Linked DNA regions of Homo sapiens: region 2 is linked to region 1. Evidence: fine-mapped expression QTL. A gene starts in region 1. The other region holds a variant in brackets. All regions are shown on one strand. Distances are from middle to middle. Region 1 holds the start of EPRS1 (glutamyl-prolyl-tRNA synthetase 1). Region 2 overlaps EPRS1 (glutamyl-prolyl-tRNA synthetase 1).

The links. PIP is the estimated chance that this variant, and not a neighbour inherited with it, causes the effect.
Region 2: its variant is fine-mapped to the expression of EPRS1 in whole blood (TOPMed, PIP 0.98).

What each region holds. Positions count from the first base shown.
Region 1 is chr1:220,045,510-220,048,493 of GRCh38, forward strand. EPRS1 (glutamyl-prolyl-tRNA synthetase 1) reads right to left here and starts at 996. Exons shown (of 32, transcript NM_004446.3): 1 at 834-996. The coding sequence starts at 879. RefSeq lists enhancers at 149-706, 748-1,077, 1,138-1,207.
Region 2 is chr1:220,000,148-220,002,647 of GRCh38, forward strand. It overlaps EPRS1 (glutamyl-prolyl-tRNA synthetase 1), which reads right to left. Exons shown (of 32, transcript NM_004446.3): 17 at 991-1,108. Among named protein-coding and RNA genes, the nearest start is that of EPRS1, 45 kb to the right of the region's middle. The variant C/T (reference allele first, on the strand shown) is at 1,251.

The sequences.
Region 1 (2,984 bases):
GAAAAAAAAAAATCGGCAAACTACTTAAATTCTTCTGTGTAATTTCCCAAAGTAATGAAAAAGCAGAAATTCTAAGCAATCTACCAACAATAATCTTGGTCATGTCGAAAAAATAATTCCAAACAGAACTTAAGATGTGTCAGTAAGGTGACAGATCCAATGTTTACTCTGAAATTTACTACACATCCACAGGGTGCAGTAAAAGCAACCGCATCAGTCTACAGTGTACCTGGGTGTTTTCCCCAATTACCCTACCACATTTAATTAAAAATAAATGCAGCCTCAGTTGAAATCCTAAATGCTAATATGCTCGTCTGGGTTATTTCTTCTGAACTCGATAAAACGTAAGGAAAATTTGACTCAAGTGAACTGAGGATTTCTCCTGAGAGGAGGGACAGGACAGGAAAGGAGGTAAGAAAAGGAGTTGGGGGAAAAATGCTAAAAGAGAAGCGACGACTATTGGATTTTAAGTTTTAAAATCTTATTTCCACGAGCAACTCTCGCTCTCCGGGGGAAAAAGGGAGAGGTGAGTTGACTGGGAGTTCATCCCTCTGAGAAAAAGATCCGAAGCGGAGTCTCGTGTTGTCTAGCCCGGGCTCACACTGCGCCTCCCTCCATGCCCGGGAAAACCATCTTCAGGAGCAGATGCACCTGCCGGGGACACGGGGCGAGGGGTGCGGAGCCTCCTCCACGTACAATTCTGGGGCGAGGGGCAGGTCCAACATCCCAGATGGTGACCACCACTGCGCAAAGCCGGGGCGCAGCGACCTTCCACGCCCTGCACCCTCCCTGGCTGATGCAACCCACACAGGTCATTGGTCTCGGCCCCTTACCTAGCGGAGGGTCTCCTGAATTCACGGTCAGAGAGAGCGTCGCCATCTCCACCAGTCCGCTGGTCCACCTGTCAGTACGCCTGGCTCGTGCCAGAACTACGGAGGACCCCGCGAAAGGAAGAAGATGCAACGTGTGCGCGTACCCGACGCCGCCGCAGCCTTCGCTCCGCCCCTGCGCCGCAGCTACTGCCGACACCGCGCACGCCGCGGTGCGACATCGTCGCGCGCCGTCTTCGTCCCCGCCCGCAGGTTCCAGAGCCTGCTACCCCTCCTCTTGGCCGCCAGGGTTAGAACGGCCTGCGTGGCCTTTCGTGCTGCGGTGGGAAAGACGCTGAAGTGGACGGGACTTTACGACACTTCGTCAAGTCAGCAGGTCGTAAAACAGCAGGTTGTAAAACCATCTTTAAGATGGGATAGGCGTTTATGTGAAGCACGAAACAAAAGCATGCACTGTCTTTATGTAAAAAGAAAAGTCCTGGAAGCATACACACGATAGCCATGATTACGTTGGGAATGGGAGAAGTTTTTCTCGTTGTTTATTTTATACATTCCCCCCCGTTTTTTTTTTTCCAAAACAAGAACGTATTTTCAAGAGTTATTTGCGTGTTGAAAATAATGGTTAAAGGAAATATAAAAGACTCTTTAAAAATCACTGCAGGCCGGGCGTGGTGGCTCACGCCTGTAATCTCAGCACTTTAGAAGGTGTAGGCGGGCGGATCACCTGAGGTCAGGAGTTCGAGACCAGTCTGGCCAGCATGGTGAAACCCCATCTCTACTAAAAATACAAAAATTAGCCTGGCATGGTGGTGGGCCCCTGTAATCCCAGCTACTTGGGAGGCTGAGGCAGGAGAATCGCTTGAACCTGGGAGGTGGAGGTTGCAGTGAGCCGAGATCGTGCTACTGCATCCAGCCTGGGCGACAGAGTGAGACTCCTTCTCGAAAAGAAAAAAAAAAAAAATCACAGCAGAGGCCGGGCGCGGTGGCTCAGGCCTGTAATCCCAGCACTTTGGGAGGCCGGAGGCGAGCGGATCTCGAGGTCAGGAGTTGGAGACCAGCTTCACCAACATGGTGAAACTGTAGAGACGGGGGTCTCTACTAAAAGTACAAAAATTAGCCGGGAATGGTAGCGCGCACCTTTAATCCTAGCTACTTGGGGAGCTGAGGCAGGAGAATCGCTTGAACCCGGGAGGAGGAGGTTGCGGTGAGCCGAGATCGCGGCACTGCACTCCAGCCTGGGCGACAGACTGAGACCCCGTTTCAAAACAAACAAAAAATCACTGCAGATAGGCGCAGTGGCGCGCTCCTGTAGTCTCAGCTATTAAGAAGGCTGAGGCAGGATCGCCTGAGCCCAGGAAGATGAGGCTGTAGTGGCCTCGCCGTGGACTTGCCTGTGAGTAGCCACTACCCTCCAGCCTGGCCGACACAGGGAGAGACCTGATCTAAAAAACAAAACAAAAAAACCCTCCGATGCCGCCCCCAATCATGGAGTCCACAGGTGTTTTTTTCAGCGTCTCATCTGATTCTCCCTTTCAAATCCTTTGTGACGGACGTGCATGCATGAGCTCCAGAGATACTCCAAGGTGTATACACACATTCGTGTGTGTGAGCTGCACCCATATTTCAAGGGCTGGTGTTAAAGTACGGGGACCCGGGATGGATTCCAAGAACCATCTCAACCACATCCTCGCCTACACTTTTTCTTAACCTCCCCAAGACATCCTTGTTTTCATTAGGGAGGGCCCCTTAGATTACATCTCCCATGAGACTTGAGGCCAGGCGCGGTGGCTCATGCCTGTAATCCCAGCACTTTGGGAAGCTGAGGCGGGCGGATCACCTAAGGTCGAGAGTTTGAGACCAGCCAAGCCAACATGGAGAAACCCCATCTCTAGTAAAAATACAAAAAAATAGCTGGGTGTGGTGGTGCATGCCTGTAATCCCAGCTACTCGGGAGGCTGACGCCAGAGAATCGCTTGAACCTGGGAGGCAGAGGTTTCGGTGAGCTGACATCACGCCATTGCACTCCAGCCTGGGTAACAGGAGCAAAACTTCATCTCAATAAAAAAAAAAAAAAAAAAAAAGAAGCCTACTTTCAGGATAGTGGGACTTATAGCAGAAAGTCTTAGGTCTTAGAGTTACCATCTTGTTGGATGC
Region 2 (2,500 bases), 46 kb before region 1:
AAGTTTTTCAAGAACACATACTAACTTATAGCATAACACCAGTTATCTTTCTAGGATATGTAAAAAATGATAGGCACAGATGGGAACTGGAACCAATGAGGGAAAAGCAACCAAATTTCCCATCTCATGCTTACTCCATGAGTTATTGAATAATATATAGTAGCAATTTTCAAGGTGTGGTCCACAGACCCCAAGGGGTATATAAAACCCTTTTAAAGGGGATCTGCAAAGTCACAGCTATTTTCACTATATTACGATGTATTTTGTCTTTTTCGCTCTCATTCTCTCATGACTGTTTGTACAGGTTTTTAGAAGCTATTAAGTCAGATATTAAAGAGATCTGTAAAAATTTAAAACCATACCGCTCTTTTAACTAAAATTTTTATTTTGGAAAATTTTTTTTAATAAAAACTTTTCGTATGTTAACATGTAACTGGATTTATTATTTTTACATGAATTAAATCCTTTTAAAACTTCTCAATTTTTAGTATGATAAATGCTGATAAATATAACCCACATAAGCAAATCATTCTTAAGAGTATAAGGGGTCTGGCCAGGCACGGTGACTCATGCCTATAATCCCAGCACTCTGGGAGGCCGAGGTGGGAGTTTCACCTGAGGTCAGGAGTTCAAGACCAGCCAGGCCAACATGGCAAAAGCCTGTCTCTACTAAAAATACAAAAATTAGCCGGGCGTCATGGTGCACGCTTGTAATCCCAACTGCTCAGGAGGCTGAGGCATGAGAATTGCTTGAACCCGGGAGGCGGAGGTTGCAGTGAGCCCAGATCGCGCCACAGCACTCCAGCCTTGGGTGAGAGTGAGATTTTAAAATCTTACATGAAAGGATAACAACAAAATGCAAAGAGCAAGACTTAACTGTCTTCTTCAGTCTCCACAGTAAGAAAGATAATCATCTGTAAAGAAATATATTCTAAACCCTGGGATAGAAAGACCATTTATTTTTATACACATATCCGTAAAAGTCATTACCTCATTTTTTGTGGCTTCTACTTTGGTCTTTTCCTTTGACCCTGATGTTGGCATTTCCTTTGTGTGCCCATCAGGAATGTATATCAAAACACACGGGGCTTCCTTGCAACTATATGGGCTAAAAAGAAAATAAAGGGACAAAATAGTTTATTTGAACAAAATTATCTGAACAGCAATAAACACTGAATTCCTAGATAAATTCAATGGCACTAAGTTAATGCTTTTCTTTCTTTTTTTCTTTCCTTTTTGAGACAGTCTCA[C/T]TCTGTCGCCCAGGCTGGAATGTAGTGATGTGATCTAAGCTCACTGCAGCTTCCACCTCCTGCGTTCAAGTGATTCTCCTGCCTCAGCCTGTAAGTAGCTGGGATTACCAGCCACATGCCACCACACTAATTTTTGTATTTTTAGTAGAGCCTGGTCTTGAACTCCTAACCTCAAGTGATCCGGCCACCTCAGCCTCCCAAAGTGCTGGGATAACAGGTGTGAGCCACTGCACCTGTCCAGTTAATGCTTTTTGAAGTATAAAATAGTCCATTGTCTTACTATTCAAATCAGAGGCTCTTCAGAATAGTTTTACAAACAACAAATGCATAAATAAAAATTGACAGTCTTGGCCGGGCGCAGTGGCTCACCCCTATAATACTGGCACTTTGAGAGGCCAAGGCGGGTGGATTGCCTGAGTTCAGGAGTTCAAAACCAGCCTGGGCAACACGGTGAAACCCCATCGCTACTAAAATACAAAAAATTAGCCAGGCGTGGCGGCGGGTGCCTGTAGTCCCAGCTACTCCAGAGGCTGAGGCAGGAGAATCACTTGAACCTGGGAGACAGAAGTTGCAGTGAGCCAAGATCACACCACTGCACTCCAGCCTGCGTGACAGAGTGAGATTCTGTCTCCAAAGAAAAAAAAAAAATTGGTCAGCCGTGGTGGCTCATGACTCTAATCCCAGCACTTTGGGAGGCCAAGGCAGGTGGATTACCTGAGGTCAAGAGTTCGAGACTAGCCTGGCCAACATGGTGAAACCTGTCTCTACTTAAAAAATACAAAAATTTAGCCAGGTATGGTGGCGGGCGCCTGTAATCCCAGCTACTTTGGAGGCTGGGGCAGGAGAATCGCTTGAACCCAGGAGATGGAGATTGCAATGAGCTGAGACTGCATCATTGCACTCCAGCCTGGGCAACAGGAGAGAAACTCTGCCTCAATGGAAAAAAAAAAAGAAAAAAAATTGACAGTCCTTATTACAAACTTCCAATCTATGAACTTTCGTCCATATGAACAAACTATGTCCAGGGCAAAATTATATCTGCTATGCCTGCCACTAGAAAGGGCGTTAGTGAATGTTAATGATACTCTTGACTTCAAGAAAATTTGTCTACATACCACACCTAATCTGCTTATAAGCAGAAAAATTTCTGTAAAACATTTATTTATTTTAAAATATTTAAGGGTGGGTATGGTGGCTCACATCTGTAATCCCAGCACTTCGGGGGGCCATGGCAGGTGGATCTCTTGAGC